Regions from separate parts of the Homo sapiens genome. Here all the other regions are linked to region 2. Evidence: fine-mapped expression QTL. A gene starts in region 2. Each other region holds a variant in brackets. All regions are shown on one strand. Distances are between the middles of the regions. Region 1 overlaps LIN52 (lin-52 DREAM MuvB core complex component). Region 2 holds the start of PTGR2 (prostaglandin reductase 2). Region 3 has its middle 16 kb from the start of LINC02274. Region 4 overlaps ZNF410 (zinc finger protein 410). Region 5 overlaps ZNF410 (zinc finger protein 410).

What was found.
Region 1: its variant is fine-mapped to the expression of PTGR2 in skeletal muscle (GTEx, PIP 0.98).
Region 3: its variant is fine-mapped to the expression of PTGR2 in whole blood (TOPMed, PIP above 0.99).
Region 4: its variant is fine-mapped to the expression of PTGR2 in whole blood (TOPMed, PIP above 0.99).
Region 5: its variant is fine-mapped to the expression of PTGR2 in lung (TOPMed, PIP 0.92).

What each region holds. Positions count from the first base shown.
Region 1 is chr14:74,198,771-74,205,268 of GRCh38, reverse strand. LIN52 (lin-52 DREAM MuvB core complex component) reads right to left here. Exons shown (of 6, transcript NM_001024674.3): 6 at 3,776-6,347. The coding sequence ends at 6,292. Among named protein-coding and RNA genes, the nearest start is that of VSX2, 37 kb to the left of the region's middle. RefSeq lists a silencer at 2,896-3,096. The variant A/C (reference allele first, on the strand shown) is at 3,701.
Region 2 is chr14:73,848,211-73,854,708 of GRCh38, reverse strand. PTGR2 (prostaglandin reductase 2) reads right to left here and starts at 2,878. Exons shown (of 10, transcript NM_001146154.2): 1 at 2,766-2,878. RefSeq lists an enhancer at 3,083-3,132 and a silencer at 2,742-3,144.
Region 3 is chr14:73,810,772-73,817,269 of GRCh38, reverse strand. No RefSeq gene overlaps it. Among named protein-coding and RNA genes, the nearest start is that of LINC02274, 16 kb to the left of the region's middle. The variant G/A (reference allele first, on the strand shown) is at 3,413.
Region 4 is chr14:73,926,507-73,933,004 of GRCh38, reverse strand. It overlaps ZNF410 (zinc finger protein 410), which reads right to left. Exons shown (of 12, transcript NM_021188.3): 12 at 484-1,502. The coding sequence ends at 1,464. It overlaps FAM161B (FAM161 centrosomal protein B), which reads left to right. Exons shown (of 9, transcript NM_152445.3): 9 at 1-729. Among named protein-coding and RNA genes, the nearest start is that of FAM161B, 20 kb to the left of the region's middle. The variant A/G (reference allele first, on the strand shown) is at 3,487.
Region 5 is chr14:73,887,118-73,893,405 of GRCh38, reverse strand. ZNF410 (zinc finger protein 410) reads right to left here. Exons shown (of 12, transcript NM_021188.3): 2 at 1,198-1,379. The coding sequence starts at 1,230. Among named protein-coding and RNA genes, the nearest start is that of ZNF410, 3.4 kb to the right of the region's middle. The variant A/C (reference allele first, on the strand shown) is at 3,606.

The DNA.
Region 1 (6,498 bases), 350 kb before region 2:
CACCCCTGCCTCTCTCTCAAAATCCAAGCACTTACTATATCTTAGACCAGCAATGAGGCTATGAACACCGAATGTCAAGGCACAGTTCATTCTTTCAACAAATGCTTATTTTAGCACCTATTATGTGCCAGGTAGTTCTGTTTATAACCAAAGAAACTGTAGGAAATTGAACAAATTTGGATCAATTCTTTGGCATGTCCCAAAAGTTATTTTTAAAAGTCAAATCTTATCATTATCCTCTCTGTGCCTCAGAAAACTGAAGGTAGAAAAACAATGCAACTCTGATTACTTGAGTTTTTTGGCTCCTCAGATTCTACATAACTGAATCTCCTTTGGTATTGGAGGTCACTTTCAGAAACATCAGGTATAGAGATCGAGACAGAAAGCAGAGGGCAAGAGAGAGATGAAAATATGTGAGCCCAATTCTGCTCCGAACTTGGGTTTAATTGAGATTCCAACTGCCACTCTCCCCTGCATTCCTTTGTCCCTGGCTATGACCAAGTTTACGGCTGTATCGCCCCAAGTAATCCCCGTAATGGGCTGCAATCCTGGGGGAGCTGTTTTTGTTCATTAAGTGACCAACCTCTGAGCCACATGGAGCGCGGCCAGTTACAGCTTCTTGCCCTGGCAGATGGGCCACTTTTCTGTTTTAAAAAAACAGGGATCTTTCAGGAGAGAGGAGATAGTAGGCAGGGGTTGGGGACACAATCAGGGACATAAAGGTGATGGGTGCTAGAAATGAAGGCCAGAGTGAGGGGGGCAGTGGGTGCCCCTTCCAGGTCATGCAGTCTTCTAGGGCAGAATTCACTCACGTGCTGTGTGTTAGCTTTCTTTGCAATGGTAACTATAGTTGTGTAGGGCTTACAGTTTGTGAAGGGCTCAATGTAGTTCCTGGAGTGATGCTACCAGTCTGCAGAGGTGGGAGGAGTGAGGGGGCCATAGACAGGAGGCAGCGAATGAACAGAGTAGGGCAAATAGCTGAGAGGGGGCTTCCCCTGAGGGTCAGAAATTCTCAGTGCTTCAGACTCCAGCTCAAGTGACAGGGGCCAGGCTGTGCCAAGAGCAGTTCTCTCAAGCCAACTGACTCTTACCTCTCTGCCCACAGCCCCAGTGTCTGCTTCTTGAAGTTGGGGAAACATTGCAGCAGCTGCTTGTTGGGAGACCCGTCCCCTCACTGCACTGCCCCACCCCCTCCCCGCCACCTGCCCCACCACCCCATGTCTGTCCTCTGGGTAGAGTTGTGTGAAGCGGAAGACAATTTGGGGCTTATTAGTGTCCCAGGGAGACATGTAACTTGTGTTGCTGGGACCCAAACAGCAAGAGTCTTAGCGGCAAACTCCAGCCGAGAAAAGACTGAGGAATTGTCTCACCTAATTACAGGGAATGGCCCTCTTTGTGTTTGTGATTCGGTACGGTTGTCCGATCGCTTTTGATCGCTTTTCTCTATTTGCTGGCTCAGGCCATGCTGGAATTGTGCTAATTAGAAGAGAAATGGACAGAGTGATCCTGTCAGCCCTGGTTACTGGTGGGGACAAAGCAGAATATTATTCTGAGGCAGTGTTTTGTGAGGGCCCTTCTTCCAGCTCTCATTAGGAGGAAGGGGCCCACAGGAGGGGAAGGTTCCAAATGCCTGGCCCAGCTAATGGAGCACTGGGGTGTTTCTGTGCTAATTAACAGGCTTTGCCAGCACTCACGCCAACCAGGAGCCTCACAGTTACACCTGGTATCGTCTGAAGCCCCCAGCTGCTCGAGAGGAAAAAGCGCCAGGCAAAGGGTGGGAAGGCCAGTGGCCTCTTTAGGCATAGACAAGGACACACACCCCAAATGCCAAAAAGCCTACATAGATAGGAAAAATCAGTTCCAGTCCATCAGAACTTACAACCGTGGAGACACCACCCTTTGCCACTCTCTGGGGTTGGGGGTTGCAAGACTCTCTGGTGAAACAAAGCCCACATAGGGACCAGGTATCCTTGTAGCTCTCACGAGATGAAGAAAACAGAAAATGGAGAACATAACCAAATTCTTGGAGACGGAGTTAGTGCAGAAGCTGAGAACTGGTAAGAGACTGTGTTATTTGGCTTCTGCGACCATCCACCTTGGCCCAACTGTCCATTTCCTCACTTCCTGCTCTGCCTGTTCACCTTCTTGTGATGTCTTAATCCTGGAGGAAACAGGAGGGGTCAGGGAATCCCACTGGAAATGAAATTTCTCGGCTTCATTTCAAAGCTCCTGTGGAAGTCCAAACACACTTCTGAAGCCACAGGGACAAGGGAATGACTTTCATCAGTTCCATTTTCACTGCCTTGATCTGGGAGCATCCAGAAGAGCAGCTAGAGAACTAAAACCACGGAGCAGTTAGCAAGCATCCATTTAAAAAATATGACAAAAATGGAAAGATAAAAATGAATGATGGCATTTCAATATCAACACAATTAATACCCTGTGAACTTTAAGTGTTCTAACCTATGGAAGGCAGGCCAAGCAAATCAGCAGAGGCCTAGAATCTGTGAGACTGAAGACAGCAAGAAATAATGAGAGTGCTGGTAAGAAAAAAATGTCAATAAGAATTTGCAAATGTGTCTCCAAGCTCCAATACTATGCTTTTCAGAATGTTGCTGCTCACAGCTGACAGATGCTTTACAGGATGGTATTTGGAATGGCAAAGGAAAAGGGAAAAAATATCTGTAGGCAAATAATAAACAATTACTTACCGTAAAAATAGTCTCTAAAGACTTAGAACACTCCTAACACTGTCCCTACTTAGTCAATCAGCCATGCTTTTCTAGATCACAGAAATCTACTGTTCATCCAGATGTCTTTTTTGGAAATAAATGATGGGCCTATGATGAGAAGCAATTTGCTTTCCTTAAAATGAAATGCTTTCTTTAAAAGGGCATATTCTGGTCCAGAGCAGGTAAACTATCAATGAGTGATAGCAGTAGCAATAATGAGTACTTCCTCTTTTCTAGTTCTTGAACATGGTTGAAAAGGAACCCACACTAAGGGATTTAGAAGATGGCAGATAAATACTTGTTTTCAATCTATCATGTGTAACCAGAAGCCTGCAAGCAAACAGGTTTTGAACCCCTAGTTCAAAGACACTGAAGAACTAGATGTGCAGGAGACAGCTATACCTTGAGAAGCTTTGAATTTAGTAGGGCAATAAGATATGTACTCAGTGTCAGGCGTAGTGGCTCACACCTGTAATCCCAGCACTTTGGGAGGCCGAGGCGGGAGGATCACTTGAGGCCAGGAGTTCGAGACCAGCCTGGCCAACTTGGCAAAAACCCGTCTCTACTAAAAATACAAAAATTAGCTGGGCGTGGTGGCATGCACCTGTAATCCCAGCTACTAGGGTGGCTGAGGCAGAGAATCGCTTGAACCCGGGAGGCAGAGGTTGCAGTGAGCCAAAATTGCACCACTGCACTCCAGCCTGGGCAACAGAGTGAGACTCTGTCTCAAAAAGAAAAAGTACTCAGACCACTTAAATATAAGGCAGACTATGGTAAGAGTCACAGGGATGATATGGGTAAATGCTATAGGAATGTAGGGGAAGGACCATTTCCAGCTGGATCATCAGGAGATTATAGGAAGCATAGGTTTGCCAGATGCAAAAGGGATCCAAGACCTTCTAGGAACTCAAAGGCAGGAGCAAAGGCACTCAAGTGAGAAACTGGGAACTGTTCAGAGTAACTGCAAC[A/C]GAGACTTCATATATAGGAGAGGAAGAAAACGAAACGGAAGGGTTGCTTAGGATTACATGTAGAGAGTCTTAAAATGCCGGGTCAAGAGATTGAGACTTTATTAGTAGACACGGGAAGGTATTAAGGGTTTCTAAATACTACTTTCGGGTGTTGGGCAGTGGTAGGATAGAATGGAAGGCAGGAGACCAAGTAGATGACTGTAAAGCCCCCAACTATCCATTAAGTATATTAAGGGGGAAAACAGTAGATTATTTATCATTACAGTTGTACTTTCTGGGGAGGTCTGTGCTTTAAATATCCAACTCGGCCCTCTGAGGAAAAACTCACCCTCCTGTAAAAGGGACATATTTATTATGAAGACACAAAAACCATCACATACAAAGTACAATACTATAACATCCTGAAATACATATACACACATACTGTACATAAATTTATATTATCAATATAAAAATACATCATTAACATTTCTAAGGATGACAAATACTAAACCAATAAATATTGCAATTCTAAAACATCTACTTACATTAAGTGCTGGTGAATAGGATGACGGTAAAAGAAAGAGGACAAAGCGGACCAGAAAACCAACCACCTGGCTTCCAGTTACAGACTTGAGTTGGTTTGGGGGAGGTATCCCAATCAATTTCCCCAAACACTGAAAAGTGCCTGATGTCATCAACTCTCAAAAACAGAGCAAAGGAAGAATTTGACATTATGGCACTATTTTTTGGCCACATGCGCGCGCGCACACACACACACACACTCTTCAACCGCATTTAGTGAGATACAGAAATATCAATCGATAATAAGTTTAAATTAAAATCAAAGCCCCTACAACCTAACCTTCTATGTAGCACCCCAGCAGAATGTTTTACTTCTCATACTCATCTTTCCTATCTTGTGTTAAGTCTTTTTTCCTTTCAATAAGTAAAACTACATTGATGGTCAAATGAGAGAAAAATCCAGCATTAATTCTAGCATGAGAACAAGGCACAAATGTCAGAAAAGGTTTAATGGATCAGCTGTTAAACTGAAGAGTGCCATGCCCTAGCAAACACTCACGACTCAAAACCATAACTTTTCTTGTGTCCAAACACCATCAGACTATTGCCACAGGGATATTCTTTTTTTTTTTTTTTTTTTTTTTTTTTTTCTGAGACAGAGTCTCACTCTGTTGCCCAGGCTGGAGTGCAGTGGCATAATTTCGGCTCACTGCAACCTCCACCTCCCGAATTCAAGCGATTCTCGTGCCTCAGGCCCCCAAGTAGCTGGGACTATAGGCATGCACCATCATGCCCAGCTAATTTTTGTATTTTAGTAGAGACAGGGTTTCACCATATTGGCCAGGATGGTCTCGATCTTTTGACCTATGATCCACCTGCCTCGGCCTCCCAAAGTGCTGGGATTACAGGCGTGAGCCACCATGCCCGGCCCCAGGATATTCTTTTGTGCAAAGTTTAGGAAACTCCATGCACTTCTCAAAACATCAGATGCTGGGGACTGGCTTATACAAGAAATATGGAGAACACATATAATAGATTTTAGCCATGGGCTAGATTTTCAGATTTTAACAGAGACAGATAAGTGGTGAAGAACTCCATGAAAGTTGTATTTAAGTCAGAAGATTCTTTTTCGTGTGTGTGCGTTTCTATTATATAGATGAACTATTTCATATGTGCTGTCAGAGGGGACAATCCCACCATCCCATAGCATGTTACTTTAAGGTCAATTAGGGCTTCTAGCTTTCAACCAAATGGGAACTCCTATAAACCATCCCGTTTCTCTTGTCTTTCAGGCTATACTGACTTTCTTGCTTGAAGCTGTAACAGATTAATTAGAACTCAAAAGTCCTTTCTGTCACCTTCACATTGGTCTTTAGACAACCTTGGATGGGCCTTTCACTATACAAGCTAATTCCAGGAGGGACTCAGGGATCCCTCTGCCCGAAGTCAGAACTAGAAGGTGGGGCTGGGAAGTAAGGAATGAAAAGCAAATGGGACTATCATAAGAGGTATAGAAGTTTTAAAAAACAGATATACATTTCGAGAAGATTCTGGTTTCTTCAGCTGGGGATTCTGGGAACTTAGTATATACTGGAGAGTTCACAGGTCAGGCTGCATGGTCTGGTCCAGAATCTACTTGGTCTCTGGTCTCCTCACATCGTAAACACTTTCTAAGAGATCAAGAACAATTCAAAAGAACCCATCCAATCAACATGTCACAACTGACTGCCATGACTGAGTCAAATCAACCGTAAGATCCTGGGGCTCCTGAATCACTTCCAGAAATGAGAAAGCAGGACTTCGACCTTTAAGAATGATATGCCCTCAGCTGTTACCAATATCCGAGGCTAAGAAGGTTCAAGTCTGAAAGTTGATTGAGTAACTGCAATGATCCTTGGGTAGAGCAGATTCTTCTCTTGCTGCTGAATGTCCTCAGACGTGTAGAGTGCCAGGAGCAGGGGAGAGGGCAGTCCTGGAGGTACACCCTCTGGCCTCTCCCAAGCAAGCAGTGAGGTGTGCATTGTTAGAGGTGCACCGGGAAGGGAGCTTGGTTTCGGACCCCAGGACATCCTGTCCGCAAGCAGCTGCTACTTCTTGGGCTTCTCTAGAATATTGAGGAATTTCCCCCGTGTCATCTCTCTGGCTGGAATCACAAAGCAAACAAATGATCAATGAAAACCTAAAATCGGAAAAAAGAATCATAGGAAGATTTAATTTAAAAATGCAGATTGATTTAAATTATATATCAAGTTGCTATCACAACAGATTCAATCATCACCAACTAACCTAAAAGG
Region 2 (6,498 bases):
CTAAAAGTCCTTAAGTAGTAATAGAACCATAATGGCTAAATTTTCAAAGCAGTCTTTCCAAATGAAATATCATATTTGCCCTCTAATTACTGTCAATGGTATGCTTTATTTGTTTAACATATTAATATGTATATTATAGATTTGTCCAAACACTGCTTATCAGCATGAAAAATATACTATTAAAGTTCTCTCACTCTGCATTAAATTAGAAACTTTTCAAGTGTCAAATACTACAATTAATATAGGATAATTGTGTGATATCCCTCAATAGTACCAAAAAAACACACATTTCAAATATAGATAACTTGGCTGGGCACGGTGGCTCACACCTGTAATCCTAGCACTTTGGGAGGCTGAGGCAGGTGGATCACTTGAGGTCAGGAGTTTGAGACCAGCCTGGCCAACATGGTGAAACTCTGCCCTACTAAAAATACAAAAATTAACCAGGCGTGGTGGCGGGTGCCTGTAATCCCAGCTACTCCGGAGGCTGAGGCAGGAGAATCACTTGAACCTGGGAAGCGGAGGTTGCAGTGAGCCGAAACTGATCCATTGCACTCAAGCCTGGGGGACAAGAGCGAAACTTTGTCTCAAAAAAATAAATAAATAATAAAAATAAATAAAATATAGATACCTAGATTTAGTCATAAAATTAACAGCTAAAATAAGACACATCAAGTTCCAAGATCTGAAAGAAGGGTAGATTGTTAAATTCATCCCAAGTAGGGGAAAAAAACTCAGCAAATCCTATTTGCCTGGGATACTATTCCTACTTGGTGCTAATATTCCAAAATAATAACAGACGAATTTGCTCCGATGTGATGATAGAGTGTGTTGAGTGTTTACCTTGCAGCCTGGTAAAAGGGAAAGGTCATTTAAGTAGGAAGAACAGAGTACTTCTCCTAGTTCTAACCAGGTGGGAACTTGGAAAAAGTCCCTTCTCTCAACCTGTTTCCTTAATATTCCTAAATGCCAGGAACTGAGCACAGACTCATTCACTAGCCTGTTTAAACCACCTCCCCCACCCTCACCCCAAAAAAACTGTGAGGTTGGTAATATCATCCTCTCAATTTTATAGATGAGAAAAGGGGCCGGGTATGGTGGCTCAGGCCTGTAATCCCAGCACTTTGGGAAGCTGAGGTGGGCAGATCACTTGAGGTCAGGAGTTTGAGACCAGCTCCGACAAAACGGCGAAACCCCACCTCTACTAAAAATACAAAAATCAGCCCGGCGTGGTGGCGGGCGCCTGTAATCCCAGCTACTCTGGAGGCTGAGGCTGGGGAATCGCTTTAAACCGGGAGGTGGAGGTTGCAGTGAGCCGAGATCACGCCATTGCACTCCAGCATGGGCGACAAGAGCGAAACTCCATCTCAAAAAAAAAGAAAAAAGAGAAGAAAAAAGAGGTACAGAAAGAGAATAATTCGCCCAGAGTCGCCCAACTTGTAATAACGCTAGAACCCATACTCCAACACGGCACCTGCTATTTCCATCACATGAGCTTCCTAATACCTTTTAATACCCTTATTTCGTGCGATTATTCTGCCACTAGCAACCCTGTTGACCACGCCTTGTTATAAAACGTATCTTTCTGGGCCCAGAGCCGTGGCTCACACCTGTAATTCCAGCACTTTGGGAGGCTGAGGTGGGAGGCTCACTTGAGGCCAGGAATTCGAGACCAGTCTGGCCAACATGGGAAAACCCCGCTCTACTAAAAATACAAAAATTAAGCGTGGTGGTGGGCGCCTATAGTCCCAGCTACACAGGAGGCTGAAGCTGGAGAACTGCCTGAACCCAGGAGACTGAGGCTGCAGTGAGCCGAGATCCAGCCAGGACACTCCAGCCTGGGCAACAGAGCGAGACTTTGTCTCAAAAAACAAACAAACAAACCACGTGTCTTTCTGGATCTCTCTGCCAGTCTTCTCCTCCCCTTCCGGTTTTCTGGTCTCCCCCTTCCCCTCCCGAAGTCTTGCATGTGGAGATTCCTATCTTGCTCTTCCCTTTCTCAGTGACCTCCCTGAGCCCTGTGGCTCCTCCTACCAACCACTTTATATGGAAATTAATAATAATTTGCGTCTCTAGCCCAGAATTTCAAACTAACTGCCCAGCTCGTCAGCGCTAAGAGGATAAGGACTCGTCTGCTTTGTTCAATGATGTGAATCCAGGCCGGGCGCGATGGCTCACGCCTGTAATCCCAGCACTCTGAGAGGCCGAGGCAGGCAGATCACGAGGTCAGGAGATCAAGACCATCCTGGCTAACACGGTGAAATCTCGTCTCTACCAAAAATACAAAAAATTATCCGGGCGCAGTAGTAATCCCAGCTACTCGGGAGGCTGAGGCAGGAGAATCGCTTGAACCCGAGAGATGGAGGCTGCAGTGAGCCGAGATCGCGCCACTGCACTCCAACCTGGGCGACAGACAGAGCGAGACTCCGTCACACACACAAAAAAATGTGAGTCCAATCCCCTATGCCCGGCGCATGGTACGTGCTCAACAAATCTGTGTTAAATGAAAGTTTCAGAGGCACCTCAAACACAATTACGTCAAAACCTCAGGTTGCTTTCCCCCAGTAATTCAAAAAAAACCCCAAAACCTGCTTCTGTTTCTCGAGCATTCCCTATCTCAGTGTTGCGGGCAATAACGCCAGTGTCCCCGGTAGCTCCGGGAGGACGCCTAGAAGTCACCCTGGTTGAGAGTCTTCTTCCTCACCGCTGGGGCCCGAAGCAGCTTCGGGAGCCACAGTCGCGGGAGCCGCTCGCGCGTCACTGACCCTGTGGAGCCCGGGTGAACGAAATCTCGCGTGATTTGCCGGAAAGAGGCTGTACTGCACGACCCCAGCTCGCCCCCAGGCCTCGGCCCTCTGACCGCAGTACGCAGGCGCGCGACTAGGCCCGGCTCCGCGCCCCCTCCCCTCCCAGGGGCGGGGTTTGGAAGCTTAGGGATTGGAAGTTTAGGATTCCTGGGCGCCCCACGTTTCCGGGAGAAGCAAGGGAAATGCGGAACGTCAGGGGAGAGTTACTAGTCTGGGCAAAGTGCATTAATAACTTAACTGAGATTGGTTCCTTGTGGCCGCCCCTACTGCCTTGACCCAAAGAGCAAATCTTGCAGCCTTGACCAGTGAGTTCACATTTAGCAGTCCGTGAAGAAGTTTTATTAGTTTTGTGGATTTCTCCCTGAACCTCGATTGGGAAATTATAGTGAGACAGGGACCGTCAAGCCTACTCCTTGTTTTATAGATGGGGAAACTGAGTCTCGGAGAGCTGATGTGATTGGACCACCTACCTTTCAGCTGGTTAGGGGCAGTGCTGGGATAAAACCCCTCTCTCCGGACCCTAATCCAGGGCCCCTTTGCGCCTCTTTTATTTCACGAAGAATACCAAATTCCTCCAAGATTACCAGTGTGGGCTGATTTCTCAATTTCATTCATCGTTAGTCGTCTCCTTTTGTGCTGGACTGGGTTGAGAGAAGTGTATACCTAGGACAGCTTCGGATCCCCAGGGACTTCAAACCCTAAGAAAGATCATCTGAATTAGGCAGGTATAAGAATTGCTTGTATTCATGTGGGAGCTAATAGCTCAGCACAAGTCATGCATGGAGTAGCTGAAAGATGACTAGGTTGGTGAGCAAGGGAATAGTGATCAAACAGGTTGGAGTTCCTGGTAGCTTTATGTCTGAATATTTTTGCTTCTTTGGGAAAGCTTCAGGAAGGACTAGGAGAATTACACTACTTTGCAAACATTTTCAGACAGGAGCTAATCTCTTTTATCTGTCATGGACAGGTAGACAGACCTTCAATGCCTTTTGTAATGACTTAAACCAAATGATGAAAAATAAAATGCTCAAATAGACAAAAAGTAGTAGTATAAAATAAAGGTAATCTAGAACTTGATTTAAAAGAAACACTTTCAAAATAGAAAAGAAGCCCTGCAATATTAAATTAGTTTTGGGGCTGGACGCAGTGGCTCACGCCTGTAATCTCAGACCTTTGGGAGGCAGAGGCAGGTGGATTGCTTGAGTCAGGAGTTCGAGACCAGCCTGGGCAACGTGGTGAAACCGCATTTCTTCAAAAAATAAAAAATAAAATGAAATTAGCTAGGTGTGGTGGTGCTTGCTGGTAGTCTCTCAGCTGCTCAGTAGGCTGCAGCGAGCCTTGATCACACCACTGCACTCCAGCCTGGGTGACAGACTGATACCTTGTCTCAAAAATTTTAAATATATGTATGTGTATTAATTAGTTTTAGCTCTCTTGATTCTAGGGTCTGTGAACTCCTTGTAACAAGTGTGATTTTTCTCGCCAAAATGAGTTCCCAAAAATTCAAGAGATGAGTAGAGGATTTATAGGTACATTTCTATCCAGTTTATCCTCTTCTTCTAAATTTTCTCTAACACCAAGGATTACTATCATTTACATAATGCGTAGTTTGAGTTGGATAATGCCTTATATGATTTTTTGCCTACATGATTTAATTTTCAAAACAGCCCTATTATTATTATTACCATTTTACGAATGAGGAAACCGAAGTTAAGCTAGTTAAGTTCTAAGTCAGGTTAAGTAACTAATAAGTAAAGGAGCAAGTTATCCTGCCTGAGTCCAAGCACCTGACCCTTTGTTATATTTGCCATAAATCTGGAATTCCCTACTCCTCCCTCTTTGCAGAACTTTGTACTGCCTCCTTCTCATCGTTCAAGCAATTCCTGAGAATCATTTTCTTTTTTTTCTTTTTTCTTTTCTTTTTTTTTTTTTTTTTTTTTGAGACGGAGTCTCTCTCTGTCGCCCAGGCTGGAGTGCAGTGGCACGATCTCGGCCTACTGCAACCTCTGCCTCCCGGGTTCAAGCAATTGAGCCTACTGAGTAGCTGGAACTACAGGTGCATGCCACCACACCCAGCTAATTTTTGTATTTTTAGTAGAAATGGGGTTTCATCATGTCGGCCAGGCTGGTCTCAAACTCCTGACCTCAGGTGATCCACCTGCCTTGGCCTCCCAAAGTGCTGGGATTAAAGGCATGAGCCACCACGCCCAGCCCTGAGAATCATTTTCTAGACTTCACTAGAAGGAAGTGTCAATTCTTCTCATCTCCATCTTATCAAAAAAAAATACATAGTATATATTGTTTCATTCAAGCATGATAAATATAGGCCAGGTGCAGTGGCTCACACTCATAATTCCAGCACTTAGGGAGGCGAGACAGGAGGATCACTTGAGGCCAGAAGTTTCAGACCAGCCTGGGCAACATAGGAGACCCCTATCTCTACAAAAAACAAACAACAACCAAAAAAAAAAACAAAAAGAAAAAAAATAGCCAGGTGTGGTGGCACACACCTGCAGTCCCAGCAGCTACTCATGAGGCTGAGGCAGGAGGATCGCTTAAACCCAGGAATTCCAAGTTGCAGCTAGCTATGATCTCATCACTACATTCCACCCTAGGTGCCAGAGTAAGACTTTGTCTCAAAAAAAGAAAAAAAAAAAAAAAAAAAGCCAGGCACTGTGGCTCAAACCTGTAATCCCAGAACTTTGGTAGGCCAAGAGGTAGGAAGATCGATTGAGCCCAGGAGTTCAACACCAGCCTAGGCAACATGGCAAAACCCACCTCTACAAAAAATTTTAAAAATTAGCCTGGTGTGATGTGTGTGCCTGTTGTCTCAGCTGCTTGACAGACTGAGGTGTGAGGATCACTTGAGCCCAGGAGGGCGAGGCTGCAGTGAGCTGTGTTTGCACCACTGCACTCCAGCCTGGGCAACAGAATGAGATTCTGTCTCTTAAAAAAAAAAATGCATAATAAATATAAATACTTGGCCGAGCGCAGTGACTCACGCCTGTAATCCCAGCACTTTGGGAGGCTGACGTGGGCGGATCACAAGGTCAGGAGATCAAGACCATCCTGGGTAACACGGTGAAACCCCGTCTCTACTAAAAATACAAAAAAATTAGCTGAGCGTGGTGGGGGCGCCTATAGTCCCAGCTACTCAGGAGGCTGAGGCAGGAGAATGGCATGAACCCGGGATGCAGAGCTTGCAGTGAGCAGAGATTGCACCACTGCACTCCAGCCTGGGCGACAGAGCAAGACTCCATCTCAGAAATAAATAAATAAATAAAATAAATATAAATACTTAATCTAATATGTTTGTATACTCATTCATTAAATTATTTTTTAGTTTTTTCATTCATTAAATTATTTTTAAATGAAAATAACCTCGTATGATAGCAAATTACTCAGGAGAAATCATTCAAGTTTGACCAACCTGCATGGTATATGACACTTAGTGCAACATCAAAGATTATTTGATGCTAAATAAAACATTTTTCCATGGAGGTGATAATTGTTCATAATGACACAAATTCAAACCCAAACATACATCCTAAAGAGATAACAGAACAAAGTAAGAGATAAAAACCACACCTGGCTGGGCTCGGTGGCTCATGCCTGTAATCCCAGCACTTTGGGAGGCTGAGGCAGGCGGATCACATGAGGTCAGGAGTTCGAGACCAGCCTGGCCAACATG
Region 3 (6,498 bases), 37 kb after region 2:
GTGTCAATGGTGGATGGTCTCTGCCCTCACGGAGTCTGCAGCCTGGGGCGCCTTCTCATTACTGCACCTGTGCTGCTGCCGCCTCTATGCCTTTCTAGGCCTCCTCACTGAATAATGTCTGCCTAACTCATAGCATGTTCCCGGTGGTTACAACCTCCACCTTTGCAGGCGAATATGAGTTTTTGGACCATCCAGAGTCCTTCTGAACCATGTCTGAGGAATAAAATGTATGATTAAGCAGGAAAAAAAAAGATTAAGTCCTGATTTTTTCCTCTAAAAACCTCAGGAAAAAAAACCCAAAATATTTTAGTGGCAGTATCAACGGGATACATTTATAGCTCATAAGATGATGCTGTAGAAGAACAATGTTATTCAGATATAAAAAATGACTTATTACGTCATGGTCATAGAAGGAGAACCTTTTAAGTCAAGCCCAGGGTTCTCAAGAGGCAGCCTTTCTCTCATGTTTTTTTTTCTTTGTGTTATTCTTTCCTCTAGATAGAGGCGCGGGGTGAAGGGAGCGGTATCTTTCATCTCTTCTTTCTTTCTCTTGAGTACACAGATGGTGACTGGTGCATGGCTCAAACCTTTCATAGCTGCCAGGGCTTTCCAGACTCTTGATTGCCCTCATTATTTTTCCTGCCTTGTCCAGGGTTCTCCTTCCAAGGTCATCTTCTGGTTGTGATGTAAGCCTCATCACAGCTCCCATAACACATCACAAGACACATACACTACAGACACTCACAAAGCTGAACTGCAAGAGAAAACAGAAAGCAAGCTGGGCTTTCCATTCACATAGGAAAGCGTCTCAAGATGCCTGGGAAAGTGACTCCAGGGCTTCTGACCCAGTGAACTGAACCTACTTTCCTTCTTTTCTTTTCTTTTCTCTCTCTCTCTCTCTCTCTCTCCCTTCCTCCCTCCCTCTCTCTCTCTCTTTTTCTTTTCTTGAGACAGGGTCTCGCTCTGCCACCCAGGCTGGAGTGCAGTGGTGCAATCATAATTCACTGCAGTCTTTAACTCCTGGGCTCAAGCAATCCTCCCACTTCGGCCTCCCCAAGTGTTGGGATAACAGGCATGAACTGCCATACCCGGTCATTACTATTTCTTGACGCAAGTGTTGGTTACACAGAGAGCTGCTTTGTAATTATTTGTTAAATTGTCCAAATATGTTCTGTGCATTTTTTCTTTTCTTTTCTTTCCTTTCTTTCTTTCTTTTCCTTTCCTTCTCTTTCCTTCTCCTTCCTTCGCCTTCCTTCCTTCTTTCCTTCCTTCCTTCCTTTCCTTTCTTTCTTTCTTTTCTTCTTTTTCTTTTTTGAGACAGGGTCTTGCCCTATTGCCTAGGCAGGAGTGCAGTGGCACAACCACGACTCACTGCAGCTTCAACCTCCCAGACTCAAGCCATCCTCCCACCTCAGCCTCCCAAGTTTCTGGGACTACAGGCACATGCCACCACACCCGGCTAATTTTTTATTTTTTGTAGAGACAAGGTCTCGCCATGTGGCCCAGGCTGTTCTCAAACTCCTGGGCTCAAGTGATTCTCCCATGCCAGCTTCTGCAAGTGCTGGGGTTACAAGTGTGAGCCACAATGCCCAGCCTGAGCCTAGTTGCTAAGTCTAGAATATTCCTTCCTGGTGTGTGGACATAGCAAAGGTTAAATTCAGTGTTCCATAAGGCAATTGTATATCTGATGAGCACAATTTGTTATATCAGAAGACCACCATCTCTGCAAATCAGGAGGCTTTATTCACTCATTCATTCATTCATTTATTCACCAGATATGTATGAAGTGACAGACACTTTAATAGGCAATAGGAAATCTGAAGCTGGAAACACAGTCTGTGCCCTTGAGGGGTTCATGGCAGGGAGACAGATCTAAATAGAATCTGGTGTGATATGGCCTGAAGGTAGCCATGACTTCTTCGTCCACCCTTCTTCCTCTTTTTTTTTTTTTTTTTTTGATTGAGTCGGAGTCTTGCTCTGTTGCCCAGGCTGGAGTGTAATGGCACGATCTCGGCCCACTGCACCCTCTGCCTCCTGGGTTCAAGCAATTCTCCTGCCTCAGCCTCCCAAGTAGCTGGGATTACAGGCGCCCGCCACCATGCTCAGCTAATTTTTATATTTTTAGTAGAGACCGGGTTTCACCATGTTGGCCAGGGTGGTCTCGAACTCCTGACCTCGTGATCCGCCTGCCTCGGCCTCCCAAAGTGCTGGGATTACAGGCATGAGCCACTGCACCTGGCATGGTTTTTTTTTTTTTTGAGATGGAGTCTTGCTCTGTCGCCCAGGCTGGAGTGCGGTGGCAGGATCTTGGCTCACTGCAACCTCTGCCTCACAGGTTCAAGTGATTCTCCTGCCTCAGCCTCCCGGGTAGCTGAAACTACAGGCCTGTGCCACTATGCCCAGCTAATTTTTGTATTTTTAGTAGAGACAGGGTTTCATCATGTTAGCTAGGCTGGTCTCGAACTCTTGACCTCAAGTGATCCACTTACCTTGGCCTCCCAAAGCGCTAGGATTACAGGCGTGAGCCACCACACTCAGCCTTCAACCACACTTCTAAGCCCTGTAGATCCAGCCCAGCATCCAAATTACCCGCTCCAAAGGCATGAGCAGGAAAAGGAGGGGCAGACATCACACATCACCAACAAAACTTCCCAATCATCGCCTTTTAAAAACATCTCTGCTTCCTTCCCCAAAGTGCCCTCTCCCATTGCAGTTGCTGCACCTCAGCTCTCATCTCATCCCATCCCAAAAACTAAGATCTTAGCTTTTTCTCCCCTCCTCACATCACCCCTCCACTTGTAACCTGGTTTAGTGAAACAAGACTTGGCCCCAAGCATCTCTCAAGATTGCCTCTAAGGGGCCTCAATTCAAAGTGGTTTGGTGTTGCTGCACTATGACGTGAAAGCCCAGGGGAAGCCTGGAGTCAGAGGAAGGGCGATTCTCAGAAGCCAGACTAATTTTTGTAGTGGCTGCACCTACCCTTGATTTACTGAATCAGAATCTAAACCAAATTCCGTCTCTTTTTCTCTCTCTCTTTTTCTACGTGTTGAAAAAGTTGACTGGTCTGTTCTGCAGGACAAAGTTTCTCACAGTCTGAATGTTGCTGATCACAATATTGCTGTATTTCGTAGTAGTTAGATTTTGAGGTTAAAGTGGGTTCACGTGTGATTATTTTGGCCACACTACTTTTAGGGTTGCCAGGCTTAGTAAATAAAAATACAAGATGCCCAGTTAAGTTTTAATTTCAGATAATGAGCTTTTTTTTTTTTTTTTAATAGAGTCTTGCTGTATTGCCCAGGCAGGAGTGCAGTGGCGATCTCGGCTCACCGCAACCTCTGCCTCCCAGGCTCAAGCGATCCTCCCACCTCAGCCTCCCAGGAAGCTGGGACCACAGGTGCGCACCACCTCGCCC[G/A]GCTACTTTTTTAATTTTTTGTAAAGGTGAGGTCTTGGTATGTTGCCCAGGCTGGTCTTGAACTCCTGGGCTCAAGCAATCTGCCTGCCTCGACCTCCCAAAATGCTGGGATTATAGGTGTGAGTCACCGCGCCCGGTCCCTGAACTTTTTTTTTGGGGGGGTGGGGGCAGACAAAGTCTCACCCTGTTGCCCAGGCTGGAGTGCAGTGGCGTGATCTCAGCTCACTGCAACCTCCAAGTCCCTGGTTCAAGCGATTCTCCTGCCTCAGCCTCCTGAGTAGCTGGGATTACAGGCACGTGCCACTACACCCAGCTAATTTTTATATTTTTAGTAGAGACGGGGTTTCACCATGTTGGCCAGGATGGTCTCGATCTCCTGACCTCGTGATCCGCCCACCTCGGCCTCCCAAAGTGCTAGGATTACAGGTGTGTGCCACCATGCCCAGCCTGGTCCTTGAACATTTTTCAGCATATGTATGTCTCATGGAACGTTTGGGATATATTTATACTAAAATTTATTTGATATTTATTTGAAATCCAAATTTAACTAAACATTGTGTGTTTTATCTGGAAACCCAAACTACTTCACAAGATGTATTGTGTCCATTCGTCAGGAGCTGAATATCTGGCTCTCGCTCTTTTTGCGATGTTAGAAGCTGTTGATGATCATGGCCTAGACTGATTATTTCCCTAGAGGCTGTAAAATGATGATATTCTAATTCTATCTTTTTTCTTCATTTCTTAGCTGGAATATGTCTATAAAGAGGAACTTTTCCTTGTCAACTATTTGGATTCCTTGGTTATTTTCATACAGAGAAAGCAGGCTACATGCTTAACTCTGTCCTTTTCTTTACCAGTTTTCAGAATAATTAATTGGTTCCTTAGAACTTGCCAAAAGTGACCAATGGGTTGTGTTCTTGACTTTAAAAGTATCATTATGATCTCAGATTTTTTTCGTTTTTTTTTTTTTTGAGACGGGGTCTCACTCTGTAGCCCAGGCTGGAGTGCAGTGGTGCGATCTCGGCTCACTGCAACCTCTGCCTCCCGGGTTCACACCATTCTGTAGTCCCAAGTAGCTGGGACTACAGGTGCCCGCCACCATGCCCGGCTAATTTTTGTATTTTTAGTAGAGACAGGGTTTCACCATGTTAGCCAGGATGGTCTCGATCTCCTGACCTGGTGATCTGCCTGCCTCAGCCTCCCAAAGTGCTGGGATTACAGGTGTGAGCCACCACGCCAGGCCGAACTCAGGTATTTTGACATGTATATATTTTGACCCATTGCAGTTGTTATTCTTTCAGACACTCAAATTGTTCCATATTTGGCCAATGAGAGTCTCTTGAACTTGGCTATTGGGTCCTTTTGATGCCACCCCAACGGTCTTTGTTAGGTTCTTTGCTTTCTGGTGTAACAAGATGTTCCAGAATCATCTTAAGCATTTCTTAGCTCTGGCATGGAATTAGACATTTCTCTTAGGAACTCTTTTAGTAGGAAATGATATTTAGAGATCAAACATTTCCTACTCCCCAATTTAAAATTACAACCCCCTGCAACAAACACATAGACCTATGTTCCCTGAGATCCCCTTACCTGATCTACTTTTTTCCATGCGGTTATCACCTTCTAACATATGAATTTAATTATGTTTATTGCTTGTCTCTCAGCATGAGACTGTAAGCTTCTCAAGAGCAGAGACTTGTTCACTGTCTGATACATAGCACAATAGCAGACACTCAATAAATACCCCTTTAATGAGACAATGACTATATATCACCAAATTACTTTTTTTTTTTTTTTTGAGACAGCGCCTTGTTCTGTTGCCCAGGCTGGGGTGCAGTGGTGCGATCTTGGCTCACTGCAACCTCCGCCTCCTGGATTCACGTGATTCTCATGCCTCAGCCTCCCGAGTAGCTAGGACTGCCACCATGCCCCGCAAATTTTTGTATTTTTAGTAGAGACAGGGTTTCGCCATGTTGGCCAGGCTGGTCTCGAACTCCTGACTTCAAGTGATCTGCCCGCCTCGGCCTCCCAAAGTGCTGGGATGACAGGCATGAGCCGCTGCACCTGGCCCCAAATTACATTTTTGAAGTGTTCATTCTCACTTCTGGTGGAGAATGTATTTGGGAGGGACTGTTGTGAAGCAGGGAGGCCACTAAAGAGGCTTTTTCAGTTGTCCAGGGGAAAAATGAGGGTGGCTTAGACTAAGAATGTGTCTGCGGAAATGTAAAGAAAAGTGAGGTAGAGACAAGAGGTATTTAATATAACTGACTAAACATGGTGATGGGCTGGATGTGTGGGATGAGGGAAAAGGAAGAATGAAAAATGACTTCTAGAATTTGCCCTGTGCAAATAGATGGATAAAGAAGCTAAAGGGGTGAAAGGGAGGGGAGAGGAGAGGGAGAGATTTTGAGGATAAAGAGAATGAAGAGCTCGATTGTGGAAATGCATGATTGGAAGTGCCTGTTAGCCAGGTGGAGACATAAAGCAAGAGGAGGATGGATGAGTCTGGGCTCAGGCATGGAGATGTAAAATTGGGGGTCATCAGTATTTTGGTGGTATTTAGAGCTCTGGAGTAGATGAGATCATTTTGAGAGCTTTAGACAGCGACTAGATGCTATTTCAGAACCAAGCCCTAAAGTACCCCAACACTAATGGTCAGGTAAAGGAGAAGCCTGCCAAGGAGACTGAGAAGAGTCTATCTCTATAGCCATAGAGGTAGAGGAAAACCAGGAGAGAGTATCATCGTTAAAACGAAGAAGGAAGAATGCCTCAAGAAGGAGGAAGTGGTCAACTGTGTCAAATGCTACTGAAGGGTCAAGTTTTACGATGGCAGAGGTAGACCCATTAGATTTTGCAACGTATAAGTTGCTGGTGACCTTTACAAGGGAAGTTTCAGTGGAACAGTAGGGACAGATGAGTGAACAGGAAGAATGAAACCAGAGAGAGCAGACTCTTTCTTTTTTTCCTTTTTTTTGAGACAGGGTCTCGCGCTGTCACCCAGGCTGGAATGCAGTGGCAGAATCATAGCTCATTGCAGCCTTGAACTCCTGGGCTGAAGTGATCCTCCCACCTCAGCCTCCAGAGTT
Region 4 (6,498 bases), 78 kb before region 2:
ATTTCCCAGACAACCAAGATTTTCTACTAGTAGGTGAACTTTGGAATAATTTTCTTCTCACCAATAATAATTGGATATTCTGGCTCGGTGCAGTGGTTCATGCTTGTAATCCCAGCACTTTGAGGGGCCAAGGCAGGAGGATCGCTTGAAGCCAGGCGTTCAAGACCAGCCTGGGCAACACAGACCTCATTTCTACCAAAAAAACCACAAAAAGTTAGCTGGACTGGTGGTACATGCCTATAGTCCTAGCTATTCAGGAGGCTGAGGTGGGAGGATGCCTTGAGCGTAGGAGTTCAAGGTTACATTGAGCTATGATTACACTACTGCACTCCAGCCTGGGTGACAGAGCAAGACCCCATCTCAAATCATAATGATGATGAGTGGATATTTTCTCAGTAGCTGTGGAGACAGGATGACTGATAGCAAGAGTGCCTGCTCTAACTAAAGCACCTTTCTCAAGCTTTTTTAAAAAAACTATCTTTGTGGAAAAATTCAGAAGTATCTGTTTTTATTGCCATTTTCTCAGATGCGTCTTTTTTGGTGGTGACAGAGTAACTATCACCTGGGCTTAAGAAATGAAGATGTTCTTGTTGTTTCCTAAGACTCCTCGGTTCAGTTTTACTGGTATGGAATCCTAAGGGTAAATCAATACACTATTTTAAAGGGAAAGATTAAATTCTTAATCTCTAAGAAAACAAATTTTGTATAAAACAAGAGCCAAAGAACTGACTGGGCTGTTTTGTTTATTTAAAGGAAAACCTGAATCTCTGCATCATGTAATTTTTAACTTTAAAAAAACAAAAACATGAAATCCCTCTTAACATGCTACTGTATGTTCCATTAACGAAGAAAGCAAAGTGACCAAGTAGAAGTGTATAGGACAAGATAGTACCTCAGCCTGGGCCAAGGGGAGATTCAAGTAATTTATTTTTTTGCAGCCCAGTGGCAGAGAGTCTCTTACTCAGGTTGCTAAAGGGAGAATGTAACAAGAGAATTGACATCACTCCCTTCTTCAAAGCAACAAGGCATCTTGAAAACTCAACTTCCTGGTGAAGCTCTGTTGTTGGTAGCAGGAATTATTTCATCCATGTGAAAAGACAGCTGAGTCTGGGATGAAAACTCTTCAAAGGAAAACCTCCCCTCAACAGTCAGAATGAAGAACTTCAGCCAACACATAATCAAATTCACTTTTGGTCTATCCCAGAAATTTGCAGTGGGAAGAGAGGTAGGTACAGTTTCCCAGCCCACAGTCATTGCTTCATTCCTTGTCTGATCAGATGGTAGTTAGAAAAGAAGCTCTCCTACATCCATCTTCTATACCAGGAAAGAGGAAGAGTGGCAAAAGCAGAGTCTTGTGCCTTCAAAGATTCATTCTGGTTCTGTTGTGGGCTAAGGCATCCTGTTCCCAGTATACGCATTTTGAGATCAGATAGAGTTGCTCTTCCAGGAGTCAGCACCCACGCTCATGTCCGTCTTTCAGTTAAATCTCCTTGGTTTAGTAACTGTAAAAGATTGAAAGCAAATCTAGAATAGGTTACAGTTGAATTATAGAAAAAATAATTCATAGTAAAAAGTATTAAGAGTGGAGGATGGAGAATGCACTACAGGGGTGAATGAAGGCTATCTACTTCCAAAGCAAACACATGCACGGACTGATAGATGTCACTGTGGCCTTGGGACAGCACTTTAGCCATGTCATAAGGCTGGCATTTTAACTCTGGCAATCAAATATTCTGAGTCTATAAGCCAAACTATTGTTTGTGTAGTTACCTACTCATCAGTCAGTGACAGAGGAATCTCTAACTTACAGGGAAAACAGAAATGGTGGAACCAAAATCTTATACGTGTCAGCCAAAGGATAGGCTGAAGGCTCAAGTAGGAGAAGGAAATAGGAAGAGGAGCTGTTCCTTTATAAGTACTATATGAGAGCTGAAACCCACTCATAAAAGATCTAGGGGTTCCTTGGGCTTAAAAGAATGATAAGCCTAAGGGACTCCTGCATAATGGCAACTACCACTAACATTCTACTCTATACACAAGGCTCTATTCAAAGGAGTTTTGAAATAATGAAATTGGCTTCCATTTTAATATAAAAACAAAATGAGGCTGGGTGCAGTGGCTCACATCTGTAATCCCAGCACTTTGGGAGGCTGAGGCAGGAGAACTGCTTGAGACCAGAAATTTGAGACCCACTTGGGCAACACAGTGAGGCCCTGTCTCTACAAGAAAATTTTAAAAATTAAGCATGGTGGTACATGCTTGCAGTCCTAGCTACTTGGGAGGCTGAGGGAGGAGGATCACTTGAGCCCAGGAGTTCAAGGGTGCAGTGAGCTATGATCATGCCACTGCACTGCACTCCAGCCTGAGTGACAGACTGAGACTGTTTTCAGACACACAAAAATGAGATGGGAACAATTCAGTAAAATTCAGAACAAAAACAACTTATTAAAATCTAATCAAATAAATTCTTCAGCTTGAGATGTATTTACTTGGTGATCCTAATTTGGATGAAGGTAATTTATACAGTAGAATTTAATGATTGGGCTGGGCACCATGGCTCATGCCTATAACCCCACCACTTTGGGAGGCTGAGGGAGGAGGATTGCTTGAGGCCAGAAATTTGAGATCAGCCTGGGCAACATGGTAAGACACTGTATCCACCAAAAAAACTTTTTTTTAAGAGTTTAATTATATGGAATTTAAAGACTTTTAAACAAAATCTAAAGAAAAAATTAAACCTTAAAGAAACCACATATTCCATTTGATGCTGTGTGGCAGGAAAGTTAAGAATAGTGTGTTTTTAATGGAGGCCAAGATCCAGATCTTTGCAGTCAAACTTAGCAAAGGTACTTTATGAGAAATATTATAGAATTTGTAATTTCTATTTGTGCCTTGATTTGGAAAGCATTCTAAGAGGTAGTCAAAACTAGCTGGGAATCTCTTATACTGGTTCTTGAGTTCAAGAATGTGAACTCAATGTAAATATGGAGCCCCATTTAGAATGACCTTTAGTAAGTATGACAGCCCAAAAGCCCTGGGGTTCCCAGTTGGGCCTGTGCAATGAGTCCTCCATCTAATTCTCAGATGTGGCACAATAATGAGGGAAAATAGAGATTGTCCACCTGAACCAGAGAGGTGACTTGTAGTTTCTGATATTTTTCCCATGGTAATTTTTCTTCTTTTTTTTTTTTAAAGAGTTTGGCTCTGTCACCCAGACTGCAGTGTAGTGGCAAGATCATGGCTCACTACAGCCTCAACTTCCTGGGCCCAAGTGATCCTCTCACCTCAGCCTCCCAAGTAGCTAGGACCAGCTAATTTTATTTTATTTTTTGTAGACATGGGGTTTTCCTGTGTTGCCCAGGCTGGTCTCAAACTCCTAAGCTCAATTGATCCTCCCACCCCAGCCTCCCAAAGTGCTAGCCACCGCACCCAGCCTCTCATGAAAATTTCTGATAACAGATTTGGTTGTTCTCTGATATTCTTGAT[A/G]AGCTATTTTTATTTTTAGAGCATATTTACAGGAAGTACAAGTTCATCAGTAGACTTTGATCCATACTGCTTGGTGATCTCCAAAAAAGGTGAAACGGACATGTGTTGCAAATAGCCTTCACCTTCTCTGGCACCTGAAAGTTCTTAAGGAATCAACATTCCTCACTCACTGGAGAAATAGCAAGTTATTACCTAGACCTTGGATGAGGAAGAGGCCTAAGCCTGGAACCCTGAGGGCCTCACAGCTTGAAAAAAAACTGAAGGTATTGGAGGACCCAAACTAGTGAAGAAAGAAAAGGAGGGGATAAGCAGTGGAAATGCCTGTGATACGAGGAGGAGAATAATGCTAAAAGTGAAGAAAACACAAAAGAAGTGAGGCTCAGACAGAGGGTATGTTTGTAAATATACAAAAACCCATGAGGAAAAAGTGACAGTGCAGGATTTTGAGCTACATCCAGGACAGCACTTTCCCTTTTGTGTTGTTAATATTTTTCTAAGTGTTTTGGGCTTCCATTATGAAACTGGGTTTTGTGCCTTCCTGGAGTGAAGACCATACTTCCTTTTTTTGTTTGATTTTTGGGATAGGATCTCTCCCAGGCTGGAGTGCAGTGGGACAATCATAGTTCACTGCAGCCTCGAACTCCTGGGCTCAAGTTGATCCTCCTGCCTCAGCCTCTGGAGTAGCTGGGACTACAGGTATGCACCACTATGCCTGGATAATTTTTTAAAAAACTTTTTGTAGAGACAGGATCTTGCTCTGTTGTCCAGGCTTGTCTCGAACTTCTGGCCTCAAGTGATCCTCCCACCTTAGCTTCCAAAAGTGCTGGGATTATAGACATGATCCACCACACCCAGGTCTTTCGTTTTTTAGGCAGCCTGTGTTATGCTGTCTCCCTGAGGCTGTAAGTGGGCAGCACCTATTATACATGGATGCTCTGAGGCCAATTCCAAGACTTGTGCCTAGGTTCTAGGGAACAAATGTACTATTACTGGATATTCTGAATACACAAATCTGATCACGTCATACCCTACTTCAAACCATGCAGTGGTTCTTCAGTGCCCCCAGGATAAAATCATGCCTTGTAAGACCTTTCAAGAGACTAGCTTATCTTTCCAGCTCTCAATTTTCCTCTCCAGCCCATCTCTTCATCCCATGTCCCATCACACTCAACCCTATTTACAGTTCCACAGAGGCCCTCTACTCCCTTACCTTCTACCTTTGTACACACTGCTGTCCTTCTGCCTGTTATATTCTTCCAACTCCTACTTCTCCATCAAGATGATGTCTATTCATCCCTCCCATCTCAACTTAAACTCTAAAACATATTCTCTGACTTCTCCCAAGACTGGAACGTACTACACTTAAAAACTGCCAGTTTAGGCTGGGCGCAGTGGCTCATGCCTGTAATCCCAGCACTTTGGGAGGCCGAGGCGGGTGGATCACCTAAGGTCAGGAGTTTGAGACCAGCCTGGCCAACATGATGAAACCCCGTCTCTATCAAAAATACAAAAAATTAGCTGGGTGTGGTGGTGGCCGCCTGTAATCCCAGCTACTCAGGAGTCTGAGACATGAGAATTGCTTGAACCCAGGAGGTAGAGGTTGCAGTGGGCCGAGATTGTGCCACTGCACTCCAGCCTGGGCAACAGAGTGAGACTCCGTCTAAAAAATTAAAAAAAAAAAAAAAATTGCCGGTTGATTAATTGGTCACTTCTCCCATCCTAACCTCACTGTACAGTGCAACTCCAGCACCATATATATAGTTATGAAGGTCCTAATTCTGCCTATAAGCTATTTGAGGCAGAGACTATATTTTGTTTACTATTGTATAACTAGTACCCTGCAGAATGCCCCACACATACTAGGTATGTGGTAACTAGCCGCTGAATGAATTAAATTTTCATACATCTGGCATTTATTTGGGTAACGTGGAGAATTTTAAAGATATTTACCAATACAGGAGAGAAAAGCTCTGAGGTTTCAAATATAAAAAAGAAAAGGCTAGGTGCTGTGGGTTGGCTTGCTCGAATAATAATGTGTACTAGGTAAAAGAAAAACGAGATGGTTTTCCTGAAATGACGATTTCAGGGCAACCCTATGGTTGATGAGAGAAGTATTTCTTGTATAAAAGAATCACAATTAGGCCGGGCGCAGTGGCTCATGCCTGTAATCCCAGCAGTTTGGGAGGCTGAGGCGGGTGGATCACCTGAGGTCAGGAGTTCAAGACCAGCCTAGCCAACATGGTGAAACCCCGTCTCTACTAAAAATACAGCCGGGCGTGGTGGCACCTGCCTGTGGTCCCAGCTACTCAGGAGGCTGAGGCAGAAGAACCGCTTGAATTCGGGAGGTAGAGGTTGCAGTGAGCCGAGATGGTGCCACTGCACTCCAGCCTGGGCAACATAGCAAGACTCCACCTCAAAAAAAAAAAAAATCATAATAAACACAGAGGGAACAAGAGAATTAGGATATCACCATTTTGCAGGCCTTAATGAAAAATAGATCTAGGCTATGATCAGTAATGGTTGCCAAAACCTTTACATAACCTACCAGTCAATCTTAAGATCAACTGATTGTCATGTGCCTCCTGATGAGATGTAATAGGAAGCAAGAGCACCATTTATGAAATATTCTTGCCAAGGGGGAAAAATTGAATCTAATCAAACCTCTAAATGTAACTACCAGTTTTTAGGAAATACAGTGGATAGAGAAATTAATATTAACAAAAGGAGTCAATCAGCCAAAACCAGAATGTGGGAAAATCTTTAGGACAAAAACTCCCAATTCCTGGCCGGGCGCAGTGGCTCACGCCTGTAATCCCAGCACTTTGGGAGGCCGAGGTGGGTGGATCACTTGAGGTCAGGAGTTTGGGACCAGCCTGGCCAACATGGTAAAAGCCCGTCTCTACTAAAAATACAAAAATTAGTGGGGCTTGGTGGCAGGTGCCTGTAATCCCAGCTAATTGGGAGACTTGAGGCAGGAGAATTGCTTGAACCTGGGAGGCAGAGGTTGCAGTG
Region 5 (6,288 bases), 39 kb before region 2:
TATACCATACAGCCTAGAGTGTAGCAGGCTAAACCATACAGGTTTGTGTAAGTATACTCTACCATGTTCGCATAATAATGATATCAACTACCATCATATTTCTCAGAATGTATCTCTATCGCTAAGTGACACTTCACTGTAATTAAGTTAACCTCTGCCACCTTCTGTCAAACAGAGAAATGATAAAAATAATTACATTTTAAAATAATGGCTTAAAAAAAATCAACTGCATCATATTGATTACATTTTACAAAACACTTTTCTGTGTACTGGCTCATTTAATTATCGCATTAACCCAGTAAGATTTAAGATGTATTTTTTTTTGAGACAGAGTCTTGCTCTGTTGCCCAGGCTGGAGTGCAGTGGCATGATCTTGGCTCACTGCAAGCTCCACCTCCTGGGTTCACGCCATTCTCCTGCCTCAGCCTCCCAAGTAGCTGGGACTACAGGTGCCCGCCACCACGCCCAGCTAATTTTTTTTGTATTTTTAGTAGAGACAGGGTTTCACCATGTTAGGCAGGATGGTCTTGAACTCCTGACCTCATGATCCACCTGCCTCGGCCTCCCAAAGTGCTGGGATTACAGGCGTGAGCCACCGCACCCAAACTTAAGGCATATTTTACAGCTGAGGAATAAAATTGAAGACATTAAGTGACTTGTCTAAGGTCACAAGACTAGTTAGGAGCAATGCCAATCCTCAAATTTAAGTAATCTGATTCCAAATTCAGTGACCACTCTGCAACACAGATGTGCTAAATTTAAAGTAAGAAAAGTGAACAACAAAAAATGTTTAAATCCCCAATCACATTTAGAAAGAAAATACTTACAGATATATATAAAATAAACAAAAGAATTTGTAGTAGTAAATATTTATATACTTATACACCTATACATCACATGTATCTCATATTTATGTATATATTTATACATAAACATATATTTTTATTTATAAGATTTTATTACATTATCTAAATGTATGATTTCACATATACTGAAAAACAGATATAAAAACAATCACAAAAAATATAATTTTTAAATCTTTGAAAAAATAGTAACAATCAAAACCATATAGCTTAAAAAACCTAAAATATTTATTATCTGGCCCATTAAAGAAAAAGTTTGCTGACCCCCTAAACTGAAGATAAACTTTGAAATATAGCCCACCAAAAGAAAAGGAAACAAGCTGACTGGGCTCACCTCTGGTTTGGATTCTAACTCATCTGATAACATTGATTCAGCTTCCAAAACCTGTAGCTATTCAGGGGACAAGTTCAAATTTAATTCAGAGCCAATGATACCTTCCTGTTATGTTCATATTCCTCTAGGAAATACTATGCTCTTCCCGTAAGATGTTGTACTAGGTGGGTAATCAATGTAACCTAGAATAGGGGTAAAAAAGAGAGAGGGGGCATTAAGAGCAGTGGGAAAACACAGGTACATAAAGACACTTCTTTACATATACAAAAAAAATCACAACAAGCAAGCAAATAAAGAATTCAAACCGAAACACTTCTTTTAAAATACAACAAGCTCAACAGGCATCAAAACCCATAAAAATACTACGCTTTGATGCAGTATTTCAACCTCTAATAATCTAAAAAACTATCTTAAATATGGATAGAGCTATGTCCAAAGATGTCCGTCTTATCCTATGTAATAAACAACTGGAAGCAATGTATACACACACACACACCCCCAATTAGGGAATGGTTGATTAAATATGGCACTGTCACTTCAAAATATGCTGTGAAGGGTTGGGTGTGGTGGCTTACAACTGTAATCCCAGCACTTTGATAGGCTGAAGCAGGTGGATCACTTGAGGTCAATAGTTCGAGACCAGCCTGGCCAACATAGTGAAACCCCCTCTCTACTAAAAATACAAAAATTAGCTGAGCATGGTCGCAGGCACCTGTAATCCCAGCTACTCGGGAGACTGAGGCAGGAGAATCCCTTGAACCCAGGAGGTGGAGGTTGCAGTGAGCCAAGGTCAGACCACTGCACTCCAGCCTGGGCGACAGAGCAAGACTCTATCTCAAAAAACAAACCAACAAACAAATGCTATGAAGACAATGCAACAACAAGTGACTGACATGTTAAATTATAAAAATAAAATACAAAATTATATACTTGCTATTATTAAAACTAGTTATAATAAGCATCAGAAAAAGTAAAAGGAGATTCATACAGCTATGACCGTAGCTATACCGTGTGGTAGGCTGGTGTGACTTAATTTTCTTTTCTCAATTTTCCAATATTTCTAAAAGGCAACCATATTGTTTTGATAATTTTTAAAATTACATTTAAAAAAAAAAAAGTTAAAATTTGAAGAGCGTTTCCCAAAGGTAGTGCTCTCAGGACCCTGATGCGGCTGTTCTCTCTCTTTTATTTATTTATTTAGAGATGGAGTTTTGCTCTTGTTGCCCAGGCTGGAGCACAATGGCACGATCTCAGCTCACCACAACCTCTGCCTCCCAGGTTCAAGCAATTCTGCCTCAGACTCCTGGAGTAGCTGGGATTACAGGCATGAGACACCACACCTGGCTAATTTTGTATTTTTAGTAGAGACGGTTTCTCCATGTTGGTCAGGCTGGTCTCGAACTCCCAACTTCAGGTGATCCGCCTGCCGTGGCCTCCCAAAGTGCTGAGATTACAGGTGTGAGCCACTGCGCCCAGCCACTCCCTATAACTTAAATTCTTACTTTCTTATAGCTTAGTTTCTTTTCAGGATTTTGGAATGTGAGTCCATTTTATTTTGTACAATTGTTACTAAAATTGGGAGCACTATTACAAATAATCATACAGTGTAAAATGTATCCAGGATGGGTATATTTTCAATCAATGGGTACTTTAAAGTTTCCAATTAATACCAGGTAGTGTGGAAAGGTAGAACAAGACAGACTTTACAAAGAGGGCACTTAGGCTGGGCACGGTGGCTCACGCCTGTAAACCCAGCACTTTGGGAGGCCGAGGCGGGTGGGTCACCTGAGGTCAGGAGTTCAAGACCAGCCTGGCCAATATGGCGAAACCCCGTCTCTACTAAAAATACAAAAATTAGCCGGGCATGTGGCGGGTGCCTGTAATCCCAGCTACTCGGGAGGCTGTGGCAGGAGAATCGCTTGAACCCGAGAGATGGAGGTTGCAGTGAGCTGAGACTGCGTCACTGTACTCCAGCCTGGGCGACAGAGCAAGACTCCATCTCAAAAAAAAAAAAAAGTAACTGAATAAATGTTTTTTTGTCCTGTTGGTTTCTCCCTCTCTCTTTCTAAGCTACCTGAAATCCTCATTTTTCATTGTAAAAAAGTAACCATTTAGGCCGGGAGCAGTGGCTCACGCCTGTAATCCCAGCATTTTGGGAGGCCGAGGCAGGCGGAACACAAGGTCAGGAGATTGAGACCATCCTGGCCAACATGGTGCAACTCCGTCTCAACTAAAATACAAAAAATTAGCTAGGTGTGGTGGCATGTGCCTGCAGACCCAGCTACTCAGGAGGCTGAGGTAGGGGAATCGCTTGGACCTAGGAGATGGAGATTGCAGTGAGCCGAGATCGCTCCACTGTACTCCAGCCCGGGCGACAGAGCAAGACTCTGTGTCGAGAAAAAAAAAAA[A/C]AAAACTAACCATTTACAAGATATAAATGGAAATGCTCCTTCCAAGTTTCCCACATAAAGTATCATAAATCCCTGACTTTTCTTCCACACATATTTTTCTTATTCAAGCACTGCAACAGTTTCATATGGTTTATCCATCCCTCTATTTAGAGAGGAAGGAACCAAGGCTCAGTATATTACTTAATTACCAAGTTATTAAGTTGCAAAGCCAGGACTCCCACCCACACCAGAAGTATGCAGAAATCATTGGCGTGAATAGTGATTACATCTCTCTAGGTTTGACCCTGAATCTCCATGGCCTAAGAATTCCTTTTCTCAGCCTAGGCAACACAGTGAGACCCTATTTCTTTTTTTTTTTTTTTTTTTTTTGAGACTGAGTCTCGCTCTGTCACGCAGGCTGGAGTGCAGTGGCGCGATCTCAGCCAGTGAGACTCTATTTCTACAAAAAAAAATTTTTCAATTAGCATCACATGGTGGCACATGCCTGTGGTCCTAGCTACTAGGGAGGCTGAGTAGGAGGATTGCTTTAGCCCAGGAGATCGAGGCTGCACTGAACAGTGATCACGCCACTGCACTCCAGCCTGGGTAACAAATGGAGGCTGTCTCAAAAAAAACAAGAATTCCTCTTCCCCAATTCCAGCTTGTCTTAACAAGCCAAGAAATTATCAGATGTTTGTTGTTTAAGTCATCCTTAAGGTTCCTCCAACTTTGAGATTCCAGGATTGTAAAATCTCTGAGGAACCAGACAACTATTTACTGTCCTTTTTATGTTATCTATGACATCTTTTTATTTCAGTGTTTTCACTTCAATAATCTTTAAAAATTAACACGAGCATTTTCTCAAGCACTGGGTATTCATATTATAACTAAGTACTACCATACAATTTTTGTGTCCAAGTTTATGATTTGTATGTGTACGGTATGAATAAAATAAAAAATAGCAGGATGCATTAAGATATGCAACTGAACTCAAAAGAATTTGTACTAGAGCACTCAGTATCTTATCAAGTGTACTGTGGGGATCTCATCTTTAACAGAGCAACGTACTATGTACATTAGCTATAGGTGTAACGGCAAATACACAATTAAACATTCCTATTCCCAATTCCTTACTCAACAGATTTCCAAAACTGCAATGTAAATCTTTTTTAAAAATTAGTTTCACTAAGATATCGTTCACATACCATACTATTGACTCATTTAAAGAGTACAATTAAAATATCTTTAGTTCATTCAGAGTTGTACAAGCAGAACCACGATCAATTTTACAATATTTCATCACCTCACAAGGAAACCCTGTGCCCATTAACGGTCACTTCCCACTTCTAATGTGTTTACTATGAGCTTAAAGGGCTTCCATACAAGCTTCCCAGTAAGCAACTGGTAGGTACTAAATATTTGTATAATGAATGAATGACACTACAAATGATACCTACATTTTTCTCTAGTCATCTCTTCTGAACTCCAAACCTTCATTTCTAACTGCTTGCTAGGTATCTCCACATGTATATCCAACAGCATCTCAAACCTAACAATGTCCAAAATCCAGATTATTATCTTCCTTACCAAACCTGTTCTTCTTGTATTACCTATTTCAATGATCGCCCAATCTTCCTCCCACTCAGCTGCAAATTCTAGGTCTTTAAATCTCTCTCATTCTCCATTTTTAAATAATTCCCGTGATTCTCTGTTCCCAGAATGTTCTCTGTTCCCTACTGTAATGCCCTGTTTAGGTCTCTCAGTAACTTTCTACTATACTATTAAAACAGGCCTCTAACTGGTCACCCCGCGTTTAAAATTCCTCTTTCCAATACATCCTTTATGCAGCCATTCAAGTTATCTTTCCAAAACAAAGAAATGCTTATGTCACTTCTACTCAAAGTTCAGTGCCTCGGAAAAATTGTCATAGCCCTAAAGGTAAACCCCTTCGTTTACAGAAAAACTCCCCAGAGCTAGAGATTCAGCAACTTGCCAAAAATTAGACATCTACTTAGATGCAAAACGTAAAAAACTAGAACTTAAAACTTCTGACTGCTACTTTAGTTGTCTTTTACTCTGCACCACACTAAGAAAAAACCAAGTGCAATTTCTCACTCCCTAACAAAATGCCCGACTTTATTTCCAAATGTTTTTTATTTATTGCAAATATGCTGCGTTGACCTTCGTTCCAACCTAAGTACTAATTCTTAAGTCCCAAGTTAATAATATTTAACTTCCAAATGGTGCCTAAATGCATTTCTGAGCCTCATGATCAAGTGGGATAAACTTTAATAAATTGGATTATCTTGAGAAACTTCAGAAAATAAATTCGACACGAAATGTATGAAGGCCGTAAACAATCCACACACTCCTGCCCCCCGAACTGACAGGCAAAGGAGAAACGGGCGACCCAGCCCAGCCGAGTAGGCAGCTGTCCCTTTTCCAAACCCAGAAAGTAAGTGGTATGAAAGGAGAGGGTAGCTCTGGACTGAAACATTCAGGGCAAGGCCTCCTGGCATCCTCTACCCCACACCACAAAGGCCTCAGAAATAAGGCCCCAAGGTCCGTAGGCAGGCCCCGGCTGCGGGTGCAGTCCAAGAGCCCCCGCCCCGGGGACTCGCTGACTCTGGCTTTCTCAGGACAGTCTGTTCCTATATCCCTACCCCCAAAACCAAGCAAAGGAGCAAGAACATCGCCCCTAAAA